Linked DNA regions of Homo sapiens: all the other regions are linked to region 2. Evidence: fine-mapped expression QTL. A gene starts in region 2. Each other region holds a variant in brackets. All regions are shown on one strand. Distances are from middle to middle. Region 1 overlaps MYO7B (myosin VIIB). Region 2 holds the start of MYO7B-AS1 (MYO7B antisense RNA 1). Region 3 overlaps LIMS2 (LIM zinc finger domain containing 2).

Evidence for each region. PIP is the estimated chance that this variant, and not a neighbour inherited with it, causes the effect.
Region 1: its variant is the best candidate, but not a certain one, in a credible set for the expression of MYO7B-AS1 in subcutaneous fat (GTEx, PIP 0.56).
Region 3: its variant is the best candidate, but not a certain one, in a credible set for the expression of MYO7B-AS1 in visceral fat (GTEx, PIP 0.76).

What each region holds. Positions count from the first base shown.
Region 1 is chr2:127,573,483-127,580,182 of GRCh38, reverse strand. MYO7B (myosin VIIB) reads right to left here. Exons shown (of 48, transcript NM_001393586.1): 7 at 6,121-6,263; 8 at 3,475-3,588; 9 at 1,897-2,050. Among named protein-coding and RNA genes, the nearest start is that of MYO7B, 41 kb to the right of the region's middle. RefSeq lists enhancers at 1,928-1,977, 2,026-2,579. The variant G/C (reference allele first, on the strand shown) is at 2,908.
Region 2 is chr2:127,628,165-127,634,806 of GRCh38, reverse strand. MYO7B-AS1 (MYO7B antisense RNA 1) reads left to right here and starts at 4,023. Exons shown (of 3, transcript XR_923314.3): 1 at 4,023-4,432; 2 at 5,248-5,370; 3 at 6,294-6,642. It overlaps MYO7B (myosin VIIB), which reads right to left. Exons shown (of 48, transcript NM_001393586.1): 34 at 6,272-6,435; 35 at 4,981-5,162; 36 at 3,899-4,029; 37 at 3,444-3,601; 38 at 3,054-3,207; 39 at 2,406-2,561; 40 at 1,444-1,549; 41 at 518-631; 42 at 124-211. RefSeq lists an enhancer at 1,251-1,480 and silencers at 1,751-1,800, 1,901-1,990.
Region 3 is chr2:127,661,284-127,667,983 of GRCh38, reverse strand. All of the region lies in intron 1 of LIMS2 (LIM zinc finger domain containing 2), which reads left to right. Among named protein-coding and RNA genes, the nearest start is that of LIMS2, 11 kb to the left of the region's middle. RefSeq lists enhancers at 4,080-4,619, 4,620-5,160, 5,198-6,195. The variant T/C (reference allele first, on the strand shown) is at 2,813.

The DNA.
Region 1 (6,700 bases), 55 kb after region 2:
TTTTGCTTTTTTTCTTTTTTAAACTGAAAAAAATTGGAGATAAAATATACAGATAAAGAAGTGCATAAAACACAAAGCTGTGTTGTAAAGAATAAAGTCAGCACCACGTAACCACGCTAAAGCCAAATCTAGGATCTGCCAGCACCCACAGCCCTCCGAGGTCCTTGCGGGCTGAGACTGTGTCCCTCTCCTCCGGAGGTAAGCACCCTCCCGACTTCTAACTTCCTAGCTTTTTATTCCCTACATAGAGTCCCTAAACAGCATTTAATGTGCCGGCTTTTAAATGTTATGTTAGTGGGCCAGGCGCAGTGGCTTGTGTCTGTAATCCCAGCACTTTGGGAGGCTGAAGCAGAAGGATCACCTGAGGTTGGGAGTTCGAGACCAGCCTGACCAATATGGTGAAACCCCATCTTTACTAAAAATACAAAATTAGCCAGGCTGTGGTGGCAGACCCCTGTAATCCCAGCTACTCAGGAGGCTGAGGTGGGAGAATCGCTTGAACCTGGGAGGTGGAGTTTGCAGTGAGTCGAGATCCCACCACTGCACTCCAGCCTGGACAACAAAGCAAGACCCTGTCTCAAAAACAAACAAACAAACAAACAAACAAATGTTATGTTAGTGGATCTGTCTGCATTCTCTTGTGCCTGCTTCACTTCCTCAGCATCATGTTTCTGATGCTGTCCCAGGCCCCGGTGCCCACCTCTGGTTAGCACCCACCTTTCCCTGGCCGAAGTGTGCAGTCTGGCTGATAGACGACAGATCAGCCCAGCTGCAGCTTGCCTGGAAGCAATATTCTCACATGGCGTGAGATGGTGGCCCAAGCTTTTGTTTTCTATATGGACACCCCATTGCTCTAGAACAGTTTATGAAAAGTCTATCCCTTCCCATTGCTTTGAGAATGGTCTCTCCTTAGTTCTGGAACCAGCCCTATCTCTTCAAATATTGCCTCTGCCCCTTTCTCTCTCCTTTCCTTTAGGACTCCAATGAAAGGTGTGCTCCCTCTGCCACGGTGTCCTCCCAGTCTCCACCTTCTCTCTGACATCTCCCGCCATTCCTCTCTCCATGCTGTACTCAGTTTCTCCTGACTTTCCCTCCAGCTCACACATTCCATCTCCTAGACAGGCACAGAATCCCTTAAACCATCCATTGGGTTCTTCCTTTTGGTTATTTTTTTTTTTAATTTTAGAATGGAATTTCTATGTGGTTTGTTTATAAATCTATAATGTCTTTAAAGTTTCCCATTCGCTGTCTAAATTTTCAAGCTTGGCTGCTTCTTTTCTTGAGCAAAATAAGCAGAACTTCTCTAGTCTGTGTCTAATAATTCCAACTTTGAAATCTTTGTGGATCGATTTCTACTGTTTATTATTTCTGCCGGTTCTTGTTCATGGTATCTCATTTCCTTGTTCCTATTTCTTCCTGGCTTCATGCTGGATGTTGTGTTTGAAAAACTACTCACAGGAATCATTTGTAATCTAACTTGCTGGTGCTTTTTTCCAGCGAGGACTGTCAATAACTGCCGTTAGGTGCTTGGGGGTGTTCACAGGTCAGGACAACTTAATCCCCAGACCACCCCTTGCTCACAACCTGGTTTGCAAGTTCACACGTGGATTTGTTTACTCTGGCTTACCTGAACCTTAAGGGGGAAGCCCTTTTGGGTCCCAGCTAAAAGTGGGGGATGATTGGCCGGTCTCCACCTGTGGAGAGCCTTAAGCTTTGACATTTTCCCCTTTGCCTCACGAGGCCTCCAAAATCACAGCTGAATTTTTTAGATATATTTTTCCAGGCCTGGGTTGGACCACAGGATCCTTCCTGTGAGAACCCCTAGAGATGCCTTCCTGCTCCTGTCCCCTTCCCTCTCCCTCCCCAAGGGTGCAGTTGGGGCAGAACCGGCATTACCCATGAACCCCACATTCCCCAGGTGGAGAATGGCAGCCAGCAGCTTGATGACGTCCCAGCTCTCGGAGTCGGAGAACTGGAGGATCTTCATGGCCGAGCGGATGTGGGCGTAGTCCTTGGCGTCGTTGAGCCCCTCACAGGAAGTGCAGTTCCCCTGAGGGACAGGGTGCCTCAGTGAATGGGGCCATCCCCTGCCCCACCACCTCCCTCCTGGGACCAGCAAGGCTGAGACACTGCACTTCATAGGCAATGGGTGGACCACGTAGGGTCCACGCTCAAAAACTCTTTTCAGAGGCAGAATCATGACACAGTAGCCACAGCATGATCAGGCCTTGCCACCAGCACCAGCATTTGGCCACTGTGTGACCTTGGCCAAGTCACACTTCTTCTCTGATCCTCTATTTGTCGTTCGTCCCTACTCGAGCTTGCCTTGTCTCTCTGGGGGACACTGTGGGTTTGTTCCTTTAAGAAACACTTTCCATGGCTCGCCATGGGCCAGGCCCTGTGCTGCGCATCCAGGGGGGCAGGCAGGGAGCCAGTGACCGTGCCATGGCCATTTGCCTGTTACAGGTGCCCAGACCACAGGGGCCGGGGCCAGCCCTATCGAGAGGTGGAGAAAGGCTTCTTGGAGGAGGTGCAGAGCTGGCCCCACCGCCTCTGAGGACAGAGGGCAGTTTAGGCAGAGGATGATGGGAGCAAGGCCACGAGGTGGGGAGGCAGGGACAGGGCTGCGGGGAGGCTGGGGTGGGTGTTGAGAAGGGAGAGGTCGGCAGAGGGGCAGATCTTGGAGGGACCTGGAAACCACATGGAGGAGTTTGGACTTCTACCCTACAAGCCGCAGGGGTCACTGCAGCAGTGCCATCCAAAGCATGACACTACAGTGCAAACCTTCCTACAGGAAGAGTGCTTTGGCTGCAGGGTAGATGACAGATTAGAGGTCAAGACTGGCGATGGGGGACCCATGAAGTCTAGGCAGGGGCTGGTGAAGGCCTTGGAGCAGTGGACCCAGGA[G/C]AGAGGGTTGCATGGGAGAGATCCCAGAGGCAGAATGCTCTGGGTCCACTCTGTGGTCAATAAACCAGGAGGCGCAGTTCTCCTGAGGGCCAGGGAGCCTCAGCTAATGAGCGATGGCTGTGGTGCCGCCCTGTCCTAGGTGGCGGGTGCAGCTGGGAGCACAGGAAGGGCTTTGCTTTCCTGGGGCCCGGGGCTTACGTTTTAGGGGGCCTGCAAGGACAGACAATTGGAGTGAAATCAGGAGCAGGAGGCATGTGGGCAACTCCCTGTGGCCCACTGGGCACCGGGAGCCTGTCATCCAGTGGGGACCAAAGGAAGATGAGGTCTGCGGGGAGGCCCCGGGTCCAGCCTGGGGCATGGGGTACATGTGACGGGGAAGCGGGAGGCACGCGGGCAAGGTGATTCCCAGCAGAGAGGGGCTGGCGAGGAGAGGCAAAGGGAACCAGCCCCGCCTCAGGGGCCCGGCCAGCGTTGGGCTTCTCTGCAGCTGTCGCGGAGGGTGGAGCGGCACAAGCTCTTTTTCCTCCCTTCCACTGGCTACTGGGAGGCGGCAGGTGGGCAGCTCACCATGGTCAGGTAGTGGTACTCGGAGGGCGTGCCCAGGCTCAGCAGCTGCTTGTCCTCAGCACTCACCCCCATGAGCATGCAGTAGAAGATATGGTAGTTCCGCTCCTCGGGAGCCTGGGAGGGAGGGAGGGCATTCCAGACAGATTCATGAGCCATTCCCCTGAGGCCTCAGGGCCTCAGACTGCCTCTGCCCAGCCCAGCCCTGGCCTCCGCTCCACATCTCTCAGCCAGGAGCAGCTCTGGCACTGACCCAGGGCCAGCCTGGCTTGGTTGCTGTCCCTGTCCCGGGCCTCCGCGGCTGTCTCATCCCTGCCCTGAGAACTCCATTTCCCTGCATCTTGACTGCTCCTCGAAGCCCTGACACTGCTGTGCCCAAAGTCTCCAGGCCAGGAGTGATGGCACAGAGTCGGGGCTCTCTTATAGTCCCACAGTCTTCACAGGCACTTAGTGGCCCACGAGAGATCTGACAGCCACGGGGCTCCCTAGGCCTTCAGTATTTTTTTTTTTTCCGAGAGAAGGTCTTGCTCTGTCACCCAAGCTAGAGTGCAGTGGTGCAATCTCAGCCCACTGTAGCCTCGAAGTCCTGGATTCAAGCCATCCTCCCACCTCAGCCTACCAAGTAGCTAAGATCACAGGCACACACCACCACGTCCGGCTAAGTTTTGTATTTTTTGTAGAGATGGGGTTTTGCCATGTTGCCTAGGGTGCCTTCTGTATTTTTTAAAACACTATTTATAAATGCATTCTCATACAAATCAAACAATCTGAAGCATATGCAGTAGTGTTAAAAGATGGGAGTCTCAGTTGGGCTGTAATCCCAGCAGTTTTGGGAGGCTGAGGCGGGAAGATTACTTGAGCTCAGGAGTTTGAGAGCAGCCTGGGCAATATAGTGAGACCTCACCTCTACAAAAAATAAGAAAATTAGCTGGATGTGGTGGTAAACACCTCTAGTCTCAGCTACTCAAAAGGCTGAGGTGGGAGGATCAAAAACAAAAAAATGAGAGCTCCTTTCCATCCTGCCTTCCCCTTTCTTAAATCCCCTCCTCCCCGCCCCAGAACCTAGACATGTTTTTAAAAAAACATTTACTTATAGTATATCTATAAATAGTTATCTCTTTTCTTTTCTTTGTTTCTTTTTTTTTACACAAAACATATTTGTGGTTCTGCTACTTCCTTTTTTTTCACCTAAACATATCTCTTGGTGATCCTTTACATTGACATGGACAGACCGCCTCCTCTGTAGTATAGATATGCCGTAATTTTAAATTCTTTCTCTTTTCTTGGGCAGGCCTTGTTTCTCACCTGCTTTAGAAATTTCCTGCCCATTTCAGGGTATCATTTTGGGTGACAAGTTCTATGAACTCAGCAACCACTATATCAAGAAATAGGAGCTTCCAGACAGGGCAGAGAGACTCTGCCATCTGCTGGCTCTGTGACCCTGGACAAGGGGCCGAACTTAACTGGACTCAGTTTTCTCATCTGTACAATAGGGATAAAGAGACCTACCTCTCATGGTTGTGAAGGTCAAATGAGATAAAACAGGAAAAGTATAGCACCAGGTCGGAGGGTCACTAAATGTGACCTTCCTTCTCAGCTTGTCACAGTGCGGAGGCATCTGTCCCTCTCACACAGCCACAGCCCCTCTGTTGGTGGCATTCTCCCCTCTGGACCCCTTCTGTGTGTGTGCACTCATTTGCACACATGCATGTGTTAGGTGTTATGCCATCATACGAGAGCACCCCCTTACACTCACACACACACACAGGTGCATTAATTCTGCTGTTGTGGGTGCCATGTGTTGGGATTCCTACCATTTGGGACTGGCTACATGATCGCCCAGTGCAAAAGGAAACCATGGGCCCTCTTGCTAAAAAGCTAGTAAGAATTTCAAGGTGGCAATAGCAGAGCATGAAACCAAGCATGGGGCCCCCTGAGCACAGGGCCTGGTGTGACAACACAGGCCACATGCCACTGTACTTCCTGGCCATGTGGTATTTGGGATACTGTCATCTGTGTCTTTCTGCCATGTCCCCTAACATACCTGAAGATACGGCCCACCCAACTAGCCTAGTCTCAGAATTAATTCTAGTAGGGATGAGGAATGGTAGGCACCAAAGAAAGAAGAAATGTATGTGAATGGAAAATTCAAAATGGAGAAAAGTCTTTTTTGAGACAGAGTTTCACTCTGTTGCCCAGGCTGGAGTGCAGTGGTGCAATCTCAGCTCACTGCAACCTCTGCCTCCTAGGCTCAAGCAATTCTCATGCCTCAGCTTCCCAAGTAGCTGGGATTACAGGCGTGTGCCACTGCCTAGCTAATTTTTTTTTTCATATTTTTTGTAGAGGCAGGGTTTTGTCATGTTGGCCAGGCTGATCTCAAACTCCTGGCCTCAAGTAACCCACCCGCTTTGGCCTCCCATAAGTGCTGGGATTAGAGGCGTGCGCCACCAAGCCCTGCTCAAAATGGAAAAATTTCTATCATTTGCTGTCCTGGAATACTGGGGAAGGGCCCTCATTATCCAGTGAGGCCTGTGGGTTCTGGGAGGGCCCTTGGGGAAGAGGGGAGGAGAGGTGAGAGTGGGAAAGGGGCCCCTCTTGGAAACCTCCCCCATTCCCTCAACTCCCGACCTGGGAAGGGGGAGGCCTCACCTGCCGGCAGACCCGGGACTTCTCCAGGAGAAATTGCTCGATGCGCGCGCCCTCGATCACCCCGCTGGGGTTAAAGTAGATGTCAATGTACTTCCCAAAGCGGCTTGAGTTGTCGTTGCGGATTGTCTTGGCATTTCCAAAGGCTGAAGGTAAGCGGGCGATGCCCATGATGGGAGCAGAGAGGAGAAAATGTAATTTGAGTGGGATCATGTAAGAGGGCTTCTCAGAGGAGGTGGCCAAGCCTCGAATTGAAGAATGGGCACGGCTGCACCAGACAGTGACGGAAGCCAAGCGCCCGCTAAGAGGAAGACAAAAATGCAGGGAAAACCTCGGAGGTCAGAAAAAGCATGGAGTGTGCTTGCAGACGCAGAAATCTTGTCAGAGTGTGGGATGCAGGAGGAAAGCAGTGGAAGGTAGACAGAACTAGTTAGTAGGTAGGGCCAGGTGGCACAGAGCCTTAAATGCCGGGCTCAGAACTTGGGCAATCATTCTGCAGTAATAAGGGAAGCAGTAAAGCTTCTGAGAGAGTGTGGGAGCAGATTCACAGCTTAGAAAGATGGCTCAGGTTGCAGGGCTGAGG
Region 2 (6,642 bases):
CACAACCCAGGGACACACGGGAACGAATGGATGGATGAATGGGCATGGGCCGCACAGAGGCCGCCAGTGCCCCCTCGACCCACCCAGCCACGCCCTCCCCCAGCTCCACAGAGGCCTCCTCACCTTCTTTCTGGGGCTTGTTCTTCTTCACCCAGTCAGACACCTCCCTCAAGGAATCAAAGAAGAAGTCTCCCTCCTTCTGGCTGATGACCTGGGGAAGGGGAAGGTACAGGGAAGTTGGGTGGCTTCCGGGGACTGTCCTCCTGAGAACCTGCTGGGTTCTGGTCCAGTGGCCGCCTACGGCCTGGGTGCTGCGCTGGAGTCGGCTGTGCGTGGGCTATTGGCGTGTGGAGCTGGCTCTGCTCCAGGACCCCACCTACCTCTGTCCCAGCAGCCCTGGCCGTGCAGCCTGGTCCAGCATGGGTGCCCCTGGTAGGCTGAGGCCCCCACAGGCAGCACCTAGGGCCTCGCTCACTGCCCGTCCGCCCACCGTCTGCCCAGCCCCAGCCCGGCCCACCTTGTCTGAAATCTTGATGAAGAGGCTGCAGCCCTCCCAGGAGGCCAGCTGCAGCCTGGTGGCAATGCTGTCACACACATCCCGCACCCGTGTGTTGGCAACCACCTCCAGCATCTGGACAGAGAGGCAGCTGGTGAGGCCCGGGGCCTGGCTAGGGGCCAGTACAGCCCAGGATGAGCCTTCCTAGCCTGGCACTTTTGCTCCTTCATGAAACTTGGGTTGGATGTGGTCTGCCCTGAGCAGGGCAAGCCTCCCTTCCAGAACCCTGGCCAGAGGTTCATGTTGTTTAGTCCCAGCATTCGCTGTCCTGGGGCCCTGCAGGCCTGGCCTTTTGACTCGCCTTGAGAGCCCAGCAGCCAGACTGTGGGAACTTCCTGTTACCGGGACCCGAATATCAAGGCCAAAAAGACCATTGTGCTGTTGGAGAGGGCGCGAGGCGACACTGCCCACTTTGGCCTCTCAGCCCGCTTGTCTTTGCTGCCCCTGATCAAGGCCTCTGTGTCACGGTGGGGTCCTGGTGGTCTCCTACCTGCCCCCTGGCCCCTTTGTTCCCCCAGCAGCCATGGCAGGCTCTGTGCACAAGGCACACACAGTGGGAATACCTGCTCTCCTGCACCCCAGATGGTCAGAAGCCCCTAGGGGCCCCCAAGTCCTGGGACTCACCCTTGCTGCCCACCCCTCTGTCCTCTCCTGTGTCCTGGGCCTGGATCCCCCAACTCATACCTTGGGACTGGCCTGACTTCCAAAGCACCCAAGGGCAGGTGGGGCCTGCATCCCATGGGGAGAGGGCGGGAGACTGGTTAGGATGGGACAGCCCTAGAAAAGGCTCTCTGGGGTTACCAAGGAGCAGGCTGGGCCAGGAAGGAGGATGCCCCATGGCCTCTGGAGGCCTGAGACTTGCCGTGCAGACCAGAGCAGGGCCTCACCTCACTGGTGTCATTGGGGAAGTAGATCTTGTGGCAGATGCGGGAGACGTTCTGCTCTGCGGCCTCCACCTCCACCTGGTGCGGGGGCTGCTTCCGGGGCCCCGTCCTGAGGGGGACAGCGTGTGCTGCAGGTGCCACCCCCACCCTCATCCTCACCCATGCCCCAGCCCCGATGTGGGCCCTAAACCATGTGCCAGAAACAAAAGAAAACCCCAGTGACCATCACTGGGGTGGTTCCAGCCCCTCGCATGTCCTGGGGGCTGCCCCTGGCTCCACGCGGCCTCAGAGGTAGTGATGGTGCAGCTGTGCCTGAAAGCCTGGGGCACACACGGGGAAGGGCCAGGCCAGGGGCTCCCGGGAAGGCGCCGGCAGGAAAGGCTGGCAGTATTCTTATTCTCGCACAACAGGGGCATCGGGCAGGGGCCAGGGACTCTGGCAGGGCCTCTATGGGGCGCCCACCTCTCTCTGTGACCACGGCTGCCACTGAAATTATGGCCACTCCTACAGTCAACCTGCCCTCCTCACGGCCACAGGAGGCCAAGCCAGAGGAGGCAGGAGGGGTGGGGGAGAGCAAAGACGGCCAAGGAAGAGCTTCACGGCTGTGGGCGGATGAGGGAGGCCGCATGGACTTGGAAGGATGGGCCTCTGACCTCAGCCTTGAGGGCCTGGGCTGGGGCATCCAGGTTTCTCTCTATCCCTCAGGCAGTGCCTCTGTGCCACTGCTGGGCAGTGGTGGGGCAGGGGAGCTGGTGGCTATGACTGAGCCTTCTCTTGACCCTCCTGGGCCTCACCCTCCACCCTCTTCTCTGGCAGCTCGGGGCCCAATCCTGCCTGCCAAGCTGACACTGGCTTCTGGAGAGTCCTCCCAGGACCATGAGCTCCTGGAAGGCTGGCCAGGCCCCACAGCATCCCAGGTCTGCGGGCCCAGGGCCAATGCTGGGGGCTGGAGGCACTGGGCTCACCTCAGGACCTTCTGGATTCGGCGGCTGCAGTCGGGGGCCAGCAGCTTCCCCCTCCGAGTGTCTATAAACTTCTGGGCATGGGGCAGCAGCCCCTTGCTGGGCGGGAAGAGGCCCGTGCACAGCCACAGCAGCTGCCAGCCCCGCTCTTCGCTGTGCCTGAAGGGTAGCACTTGTCAGCCGGGAAAGGCCCCTCAGGGGGCCCTGGCCAGGCAGGCACCTTGGGGAGCAGGGACGGATGTGAGAGCTGCCTGGGGTCTAGAGGGCCCGAGGGGGAGGGCACCTGCCAGGCTGCACCATGCCAGCTGTGCCAGGCTGCCCGATGCCACGGGCTTTCACACCCTCAAGATGGGGGCGGGTGGGCATTGCACCCATTTTGTGGAAGACGACACTGAAGCTCAGAGAGGTCATGGCCTGCCAGGTCACACACAGAGGGTGGGAGTGGGCAGGGCCATCCTCTCCTGCTCTGACCACCCCTAGGACATCAGCAGAGCAGACCAAGGGCCCAACCCTTCCCACTGCTGAGGCAGGAGCCCAGGCAGGGGTTCTGCCGCCACCAGCTGCGGTGTCCTCTCTGAGCCTCGGTCTGGCCTCAGGGGCCGGGATGAGGACTGAGGGTGCCCGCGTGGGCTGGCCGCCGCCCCAGCAGACCTGTTGGAGTTGTGCGTCAGCTGCTTCAGGATCTGGCAGTAGACCTCGTCCTGGAGGGCCGGGTGCTGCAGGGCCAGTGTGAAGATCTGGTCGGTGAGCTCCAGGGTGGGCCAGGCCTGCCGAGAAGGGTAGTCGCCCATGTACCGGAGGATGGGTGTGGCTGTCAAGGAGCACAGTGCTGGGGCAGCCCCACGCTGACACAGACTGGGGATAGACGCTGACCCCGACCCCGGCCCTGCGGTGAGCCATGTGTGGGCTCTGTCCCGCCACTCCAGGTTTCTCAGATCTCCTGGGCTCTCCTGCCCTAGAGCACAGCTGTAGGGCCAGGATGTGCTGGGTGCCTCTGCCCTGGCATTGACGAGGTGCAGGCAGGCTGGTGGGGAAGGATATCGACAAAGATCTGGCAGGCGATGTCCCAGAGGTCGACGTTGGCGTGGACTCGCTTGAGCAGCGGCTGTCGCAGCGGCTCGCAGGAATAGGCCCACAGGTGGCCACGGGCACGGGCCAGGGGCAGCACGGCCATGCTCACCATGTCCTTCTCTGGAGCCCTGTGAGGTTAGAGGCTGGTGTGAGGCCTGCCCTGTGGCCTTCTCTGTCCCACGCTTCTCTGTCCTCTGACACCCCTGAGTGGCTGTGGGAGGGCCAGAGCACCCCACCCTGCCGCAAGCCCCTCCTGACTCCCCTGGCCTGGGAAGGCCAGGCAGGCTCCACATGGGTGGCGTGGCCTCTCTGCAGCTCTCAGTGGGTGCAATGAGGTGGAGCGGGGCTGGGAGCAGGGGGTGCAATGAGGTGAGGTGGGGCTGGGAGGTGGGGGTGCAATGAGGCGGAGCGGGGCTGGGGGGCACCTGAAGAACTCATAGGAGAACTCCTCCAGGGTGTGCAGCTTTTCCTTGGGTGGCTCCTCAGGACGTGGCTCTGTGAACTGCCCCTCCTGAGCCGCCAGCTTCCTCTTCTCTGGTGACATGGCAAGCAAGCTCTGAAGGGGGCACAGGCCTGTGGGTGCCCAGGAGCCACCGCCCATGAGGCCCTTCCTGCAGGCTCCTCCCGGCCTGGCAGCCTCAGTGACTTGGGAGGGGTCAGGCCCAGGGCTGAACAGGCCAGGGCTTACCCACACCCCTGTCACCTGCCGTGTGACCCAGGACCATGACTCTACCTCTTGGTGCCTGTCTCCTTTCCCTTGGGAGGGTGAGTGCCAATGGCTGTGGCACCCACATCACCCGTTCTGGGGGCCACGGCACTCTGGGTTTCTCAGACCCCCAGCTCCCCAGCTCCCCTTCTCCATGGGGCCACCTCTCACCCCAGCCCTGCCTGCCTAGTCTGCCACCAACTTCAGGCCTCAGCACAAATGTCCCTCCCTCGGGGATGCCTTCCCAGACAGGGTAAGTTCCCCACCCTATTATTTGTTCCTCTCCTTGGTGGCACTTTGCACAGTTGCCATCCATGTGTCATTATCTGCCCAAATGTCTGCCCTGAGGGTGGAGCTGCTATTATGCCCAGACTCGTACCACAGGCACAGGGCACATACTCAGCACTCAGTATGTACATGTTGCAATGCCTGCCATTCCTGCCTCCGGAGAGGCTGGTCTTGGGGGCTGGGGTGGGTGGTTCCCTTGTGCAGGGAGAGACTTGAGTCCCCCTGGGTCAGAGTGTAAATGAGGCAGAGAAAGATTGGGTTTGTCCCCCGGACACCCCCATGATGGAAGAGGGAGGGAACACCCATTTATTGAGGACCTACTAAGTACCAAGAGCTGGGCTGGCACTGCACACACACCTTGCCGCAGGAATGGTGGGGGCTGCCCGGGTGGCCCTCCTGGCCTCTGCTAGGTGGGCTGCAGGCCCTGAGCTAGGCCTCCCAACTAGGCATCCCAGGACTGCTCCACCCTGACCTCGGGTACCCAGGCTGAGGACAGGGGAGCGTGCCAGTTACCAGCAGCTGTGCCGAGGGCTTAGTGACCGTGGGGATGGTGTAGAGGCAGGCCATGGGCACCAGCCCCGTCTTGCCTGTCCTGTCGTTCTGGCCGAGGGTCCAGTTCTCAGAGGCCAGCAGCCCCTGCTTCTTTGTGAGGACCAACAGGTCCCCCTTCTTGAAGGCCAGGAGGGTGGTGTCATCTGTAAGGGCAGGGAGGCTATTTGCTGAGGGCTCTGCAGGGGCCAGAGGCTGTGCTGGAATTTTGTGGGTCATCTCCTTTGACAGATGAAACCGAGGCATAGAGTGGTGGGCAGAAGACCACTCCAAGAGTGAGCGATGGTGGGACTGGAACCTCAGGGGCCTCAGACGGCTGTCACCTGCTGCAGCTGCACAGGCACAGAGCCCAGGGTGGGTGGGGGCTCGAGAGCTCTGACTGCAGCCCTAGCCCTGGGAGACCCTCGGAGGGCTGACCAGGAGCCAGGGATGAGGGAGGGGAGGATGCACAGGCTGGCAGTCCCCACGCCTGGCCTGAGTGCTGCCTGCCTCTCTAGACCCCTTCCTTATCTGGAATTTGGAGATGGCAATCCTCTTTCCCTCCTGCGGTGGCCGTGAGGACTGAATGGGGCGATAGGGCAGCACATCTCGGCTGACATTTCTCACTGCCCAAAGACCCCACACACAGCCTCTTCTGCTACATCCCAACCAGCACCCCCTTCTGAAGTCCCTGCACTAACCACACCACCCACCGCCCATGACCACCCGGCCAGCAGGCTGGCCCAGCGGGGGTCCTGGGGCTTTGCCATGCTCCCCCATAGCCCACAGACACAGCCCAGCTCTCGATGGAGTGCTGGCTTGTGGGAGAGCTGTGGCCAAGAACTAGGCTCCCACCCCCTTGAGCTGTGTGACCCTGGGTGAGCTACTTCCATCTCTGGGCCTCTGGCCTCACGTCTGTAAAATGGGATAATGGGGTGCTTTTGCAGCAGTGCGCTGTGGGGATGGTGTTCAAAACTTCCCTGGGCTGGGGGCTGGCCTTTCTCAGTGCTTCTGCAGCAGTGCAGCGCTGAGCATGGCTGGCCTATGCAGGGCTGGAGACCACCTCCTTTAGCCCCTCATTTTGTAGAAGAGGAAGCAGTGGCTGAAAGAAGGCAGGGCCTTGCCTAAAGCTGCCCCCACAGAGCTTTGGGGCCTTCCCTCCCTCTGCTTGCCTTGTGGCTGCTGTGTGGAGATGAGCATGCCACCTACCTACAGACCCCATGCGCGGCCCTCCCCCACCCCACCCCACCCCACCCCACCCCACCCAGTCTGGCACCTGTGGCCTTCCTGTCCTGCAGGGCCATGGCGAAAATGGACCTCTCCTTCAGGCCCTCCAGGAACAGGGCCACCAGCTCAGCGATGGCCACACTGCTGGGTGACACAAACTCGTACTCCTCATGCATCGTGGAGAGCAGCAGCCTCTGCCCGCCCTGGGCCTCCCTGGAGATGAAGGACAGCGTGACCAGGAGCCCCCTCCACCTTCCCCTGATCCAGCCCCTAAACAGCCTCGGGAGGTGGGGTTGGGGGTCCTGAGTCACAGATGAGGACACAGAGCTGCTCTGCCAGGGCCAGGACTAGGCCAGACACCACTGTGGGTCTGGACAAATGAAGGACGGCGGAGCACAGGACCTCTCGGAGGCTGAGAGT
Region 3 (6,700 bases), 33 kb before region 2:
ACTCATTTCTTATCTGTAAATAGGGTTTCTTTTTTTGAGGAGGGATTCTTCCGAGTTTTCTATATATGAGTATGTAATATGTAAATAAAAATAGTTTTACTCTTCCTTCTCAAACTAGATGTCTTTTATTTCTTTTTCTTGTCTAACTGTCCTTGATAGAATCTGCAGTGCAATGTTGAAAACAAATAGCGGACTGGAAATCCCCCTGACCTTAGGAGGAAAGCATTCATTTTCTCATCACTAAGTATGATGTTAGCTATGGGTTTTGGGTAGATGCCCCTTATCAAATTGAAGAAGTTCCCTTCTATTCCCAGTTTGTTGGGTGCTTTTATTATGAAAAGATGTTGGATTTTGCCAAATGTGTTTTCTGCATCTGTTGAGATGGTCATAGAGTGTCCTCCCTATATTCTATTGATATGGTATATTACATTGAATTTTGGATGTGAAACCAACCCTATGTTCTTGGGATAAATCCCATTTGGTCACGGTGTATAATACTTTTTATAGAGTGTTAGATTTATTGTATTTTATCGAGGACATTTGCATCTATGTGACTTTAGCATTTTATTTTGAGATCAAGATAATATTTATAGAATGAGTTGTGAAGTATTCCCTCCTAGTCTTTCTTTTCTTTTGTTTGGAAAGATTTTGTGAAGGTTTGTTGTTTTTTGTTTTTTGTTTTTTTCTCTTTTTGAGACAAGATCTCACTCTGTCACCCAGGCTGGAGTGCAGTGGCGTGATCTCAGCTCACTGCAACCTCCGCCTTCCAGGTTCAAGTGATTCTCCTGCCTCAGCCTCCTGAGTAGCTGGGATTATAGGCATGTGCCACCACACTGGTGTTTTGTATGTTTGTTTGTAGGTTTGGTGTTAATTCTAGTTAAACCTTTGATATAATTCATCAGTGAAGCCATGTCGCTCTGGCTTTACTTTGTGACAAGTTTTTTGGTTACTGTCTCAGTCTCTTTACATGTTACTGGCCTTACTAAGTGATTTGGGTAGGCTTTGTGTCCCCAACTAAATCTCATCTTGAATTGTAATCCCTATAATCCCCACGTGTCAAGGGAGAGACCAGGTGGAGGTCATTCAATCATGGGGGTGTTTCCCCCCATGCTGTTCTTGTGATAGTGAGTTCTCACAAGATCTGCTGGTTTTATAAGGGGCTCATCCCCCTTTGCTTGGTATTTCTTCCTGCCACCTTGTGAAGAAGGTGCCTTGATTCCCCTTTGCCTTCTGCCACGACTATAAGTTTCCTGAGTCCTCCCCAGCCCTGTTCAACTGTGAGTCGATTAAACCTCTTTCCTTTATAATTTACCGAGTCTCATGAAGTTCTTAATAGCAGTATGAAAATTTAGACTGATACATTTGGATTTTCTATTTCTTCTTGAGTTCGTTTTGGTAGTGTCCTTCTAGGAATCTCTCCATTTCAGTAGGTTATTTCATTTATTGGCATACAGTTGTTCATAATATTCCATTCTGCTACCTCCTTACTGGGACCACGAGCTATTATTATTCAAGGAAGCCATGGAGTTAGGGAGCAGGAATAAGGGACTAGGATAAGTTAAAACAACACAAACCTCACTGGTTTGTGTTTGTTTGTTTGTTTACCAAGATTCATCTGTTTTTCTTGACCAAATGTTCCTAGGGTTACTGAAAACCTTTGGTGGATTTGCAGAGTTCTGAAAGAGTAGATTCTGATAATTTTTGCTAGGTTTTTCATTGCTTTTATGGAGGGATGAACTTCTGGAGGTCCTTACTCCACCACTTTCTGCTGACATCACTCTCGGTGTTTTTGCAAATATCTAGAGCCAGAGCACTGAACCAAATCCCATTTGGTCATGGTGTATAATACTTTGTATAGAGTTCTAGATTCAGTTTACAGTATCTGTGGCTCCCAATCCCATCCCTGCAGCAGGACAGGCTGCAGAATGGGTGGTAAGGTTGTGCAGAGATTTGGGATTTGGGCTCAATCAGACTCTAAGCCTCTCTCAATTTCTAGCCTTCGATGTCCGCTTTTATAGTAAATATTTGTTGAATTGATTAGTACTTGGTAAACTTGTGCTTGAACTTCATTTACAGATTATGTTGCACAAAACACTTGTGGCTGTAGCCTCCTTTCCAGTGCTATATGTGACCCTTGGAGCCCTAAATAAATGTTTCCTCCTTACAGAAAACTGCGGGTCTGCATGAGAGTCCTGGATTCTAGTGTTGAGGATTTCCACATGGATGGGCTGAGTCGGGAGTGGTGAGAGGGTCTAGGCCCTATGGCATTGACTTGTAGCTGCTGTTAAGAACATTTTCGGTGTAAGTTTTCTTAAGCATTCGGCTACCTACATCAGAGAGTCAGCGGTATTCCCTATTCATTTTGGCTCCTCTGGGCTCAGCTTCTCCATGCCCTTTAGCCCCTGGGGCCACCTTTAAAAACTATTTGTTGAACTGATCAGTGTTGGGCAACTTTGGAATTGGACTACATTTACAAATTATACTGTACCCAATGCTTGTCGTCACTTGACTGCCAGGGTGCTTAATGAGTACCTCCTCCTGTTGGGACTTGCTGGGTGAGTGTGTTCCTCAGTGGCGTGTGGGCCTGGTATCTGAATGCCAGTGAGCCCCTCCAAGGCTTTCTCCCACCCTAGTTTGGGAGGATCAGTGCCCTGCTGTCTTTAGTGACGGCTGCCAGCTCTTGCTTTCAGAAGGCAGAAGAAGATACTGCTCAAGCTTTCTGACCTTTCTAGAAAGGTCTTTCAGGGAAATGGGATCAATGCTAAAGATTTCCATGAGTGCTCTGGATCTTTATTGTACTGCTGACCAGGCT[T/C]ACCTTGGTCACAGTTTGGATGCCTACCGCGGGTGTTTATGAATCACAAGTAACTTTGCCAGTCTCTCTGGGTAAAAATGCGGGGTACATGGTGCCTTCCTGGTGGTTGCCACCAGGTCCCTCTGCGTCTGCTCCCCTGGAAGCTGGAGGATTGCCTTTTCTCTAAAATAAGGACCTCTTTTGGGGTGCCTGACCATTTGTTGGCCAGATCCAGAGGATCGGCTCTGCCCTGGTCTGGGTGCCCCACGGTGATGTTTGTGGCAGAGGGTCTCAGAGAAGGGAGCAAAGCAGAATGTGGGCCTGTGTGGCTCCGGTCCTCGGTTTCCTAACTGTTGGCAGGGATCCTAAAGGCGCCAGGTCCTCCCTGTCCTCCTCAGCTGACTCTGCCCTCCTCAGTGTGTCCACGGGCACAGGCTTTCCTCCTGGCAGGTGGCAGCCGGAGACCTCCTGGGTGTCCTGCCGCCACTGTGGACCTCACCTCAGTGCTGTCTGGGGCCTTCCCAGACCAGTCCCCTCCCAGCGGGACCCAACCCCCGCCAGCCTCAGCTTTCAGGAGCTGCCCCCGCGGCGCGAACAATATCCTTTCTATTTGGAGTTGACTCTGCTGCCCTTTGGAGATCCCAGCGCGTAACGTGAGCTCGCGACCAGCGCGGGGGAGGCGCCCACACGCCCGTCCCGTCTTGGTGTCTGGCCCCAGGCGGCCGCGCCTCCCCTCCGAGGTGGTCCCATAGCCCCTGCACCAGGCGGCCCGCGCCCGCGACCTCAAGGCGGCTGCCCCGCGCCATGGCGGCCCGGCTGGGTGCGCTGGCCGCGTCGGGGCTGTACCGGCGGCGCCAGCACCGGCAGAGCCCGCCGCCAGCCACGGGGTAGGTGGCCAGGGGCGGGGCGGGTGGCGGGGACAATGGCCGGAAAGCTGCGGCGGCAGGGCAGGCCTTCCCTCGGAAACCCGACCGGGGCCCTCCGACGCCGTGGGCTCTGCCCCGGCGTCGGATGGGCCCTGGGTTGGCGACAGGGTGGGCGCGTGCGACTTTATCTAACAGGGTTGGATGTCACCTGTGATCAGCTCTCCTGGCAGGGTGCGCCCAGGGACCTATGTTAGAGACGAGGGAGCCTGTGTAGCCCCCAGCACTGCTTTCAGACGGGGGTGATCATGCTGCACTTTATAGATGAGCAGACAGGTTCTGAGCAGAGCAGACACCTGCTGGACTCACCCACCCCAAACATGGCTATGCTGTGATTTGAACCCAGGTTAGACTGACTCCAGCAGTGGGGTTCAGGATGGTCCTCAGGGCATCTCAGAGAATGAGTTGGCTCTGGATGGGGAGGTTGGGAGGGGCACGGGGATGGTGGTGGAGCCACCTCCCCTCACTCTTGGGGTCAGGGGCATGAGGAGGAGCTCCTGAAAATGTTGCCTTTGCAGTGCCGAGGGGCCAGCGGGGAAGAGAGAGCAATAGGGCTGTGACCTTGGGGTCCTTGGCATCAAGGTGACAGATAGGGACCCTGGGGAGGAGGCCAAGGCTGGGCAGAAGGGCTGGGGCGGGGGGGCAGGGAGGGAGCCAGGAACATAAGTCGCAGAGGTAGGGGAGGGCCTGGAGGACCCAGGAGCAGAGGAAGGCCAGTGCCACCCAGGGCAAGCATAGCCCACTCTCAGCTCCTTGTGTGTGGTCAGGGAAGGCTCCCAGAGTGGCAATTAGAGGACTGAGCCATCAAAGATATCTTTTGCTGAGAACAGAAGAGGAAGGAGGGCACCGAGTGGAGGGCGGGAACTGCAGGCCGGCAGCACGGCCATCTGTGGAGTCCCTGCTGCATGCTGGGCTCCCGCTTGTGCTGGCATGGCAGGTCTGGGGCAGCCTGCTGTTCAGGTGGGGACCCCCAGACTCAGGAGGCCAAGTCACTCACCTGAGTGTGGCAGAGCTGGAGCAGGCACCCTCCCTGGTCAACCTCTGGACAGCCCTGGATGCGTGTGGCATAACTGTGGTACCAGGCTGCGAGTGGCCAGGGCACTGATGGCCCCAAGGCTGTTCTGGAGTGATTTTCACAGTACTGATACCACAGCTGAGATGCAGGCAGGACAGGCACGATGATGACAGGCCTGGGGCAGCCCTGAGCATGCATGCGCATGTGACTATTCACACTGTTTTTCTTTGAACTTCTGGTTCATGTCCTTTGTCAGTTCTTTGTTGTTAGTGTAACATGTTTCAGTTGTACCTGCTTAAAAGAAAAGCCACTAGAGCAAAGAGATATGGCAAGGGCTTCAAAAAAGCTCTAATTTCAGACAGGTTTCATACTGATTTGGAGTCTGTTTCTGATGGTGTCAATGCATCTTGTGTATAGCAGCCCAGGCAGCATGTTAATTTTTTCTTTTTTATTTTATTATTATTAGACTTTAAGTTTTAGGGTACATGTGCACAACCTGCAGGTTTGTTCCATATGTATACATGTGCCATGTTGGTTTGCTGCACCCATTAACTCGTCATTTAGCATTAGGTATATCTCCTAATGCTATCCCTCCCCCCACCCCCCACCCCCCACCCCCCACCCCACAAGAGCCTCTGGTGTGTGATGTTCCCCTTCCTGTGTCCATGTGTTCTCAATGTTCAATTCCCACCTACGAGTGAGAACAGGCAGCATGTTAATTTTCTAGCGTCCCCATGGTGGGCTGGCTTTTTGTACATTTTTGTTGACCTCATGTGGCCAGGTGACCCGACACTGGCCTCTGGCTGGCTTCATGGAGGCGGGGCAGGGAGGAAGCCCAGGCAGTGCTGAGGGACTGGAGCTGCTCCCTGGGCTGTGCTGCAGTAGGGTCCCTCCCCGAAACCCTCTGCATCTGGAATAGTGCCTATCAGTGCAGGTGCTCAGTGAGGACTTCGTTGGAAGGAGGACAGAAGCATGGGCTGTGCTTGCAGGAATGGCCTCACTGAACCCTCCCAACAGTCCCTGGAGGTAGCTATTCCTGGCCCATTTTATAAACGAGGAAGTTGAGGTTCAGAGTCCTGTGCTGCAGGTCACACAGACAGGGGGCGTCGGGGCCAGGGTTGCAGCCTGGTGTGCCTGGCTATAGGGGACACACCCTTGGTCTGACTGCTGCTCAGGCCGACGTGGCCTCAGCAACACTTGCTCATCTTGGGTGTGACCAGACTTCTTGTGGCTGGCCCCCAACTCTTCCCAGATCCTTACACACACTTCCTTGACTCAGATATCAGGAAGGCTGGGATGGAGGAAGGTCTGGGGTTGTTGAAGAAACAGAATCCGGAATGGGGGATGCCAAGAGGAGATGGGAGGAACATGAGTCCAATCCTCTGTGACCCTCAGCTGGTTACTGACTCTCTCTGTGCTTCAATCTCCTTATCTGGAACCAGCCTCCTCCCCTTATACAAAGGCCTGGAACAGAGCAGGCTCCTCTGATCCCACCTCAGACTCAGGGACATCTTGCAACAAATTGGCTTGTATTGGCTGTCAAAACTGAGAGCCTTCTGGGGTGCTGGAGAGGGCTGAGGAAGGGCATGAGATGGTGTGCTCTCCCCCACCTCTGGGGTTTGGCTTCCAGGCTGGGTGTGCCCTGGGCAGTATGTTCTACGTAGTCCAGCTGGGGGTGGGTAGTGGTGTCTCCTGGGGGATAACTGGACAGACTCTGTGCTCTCTATCTTGAAGGAATGTGCAAAGGAGGACATGGAATGTCCACGTCTCTGACCCTCTGACCTCTCGCAGGGACCGCAGGCAGCCTGCAGGCCTTCCCCTAGGCTGAGCCATGCAGAGGGACTCTGGAAGGCTCCCAGAGTTGCTGGAAAACAACAGTTCTCCTTATCCAGCGCTTTGCCCTGCCTGGCCTGGTGCTCTGTGCTGGACACGTGGGTGCCATTCATTCACTTTGGCTCCTCGATGTGGCTG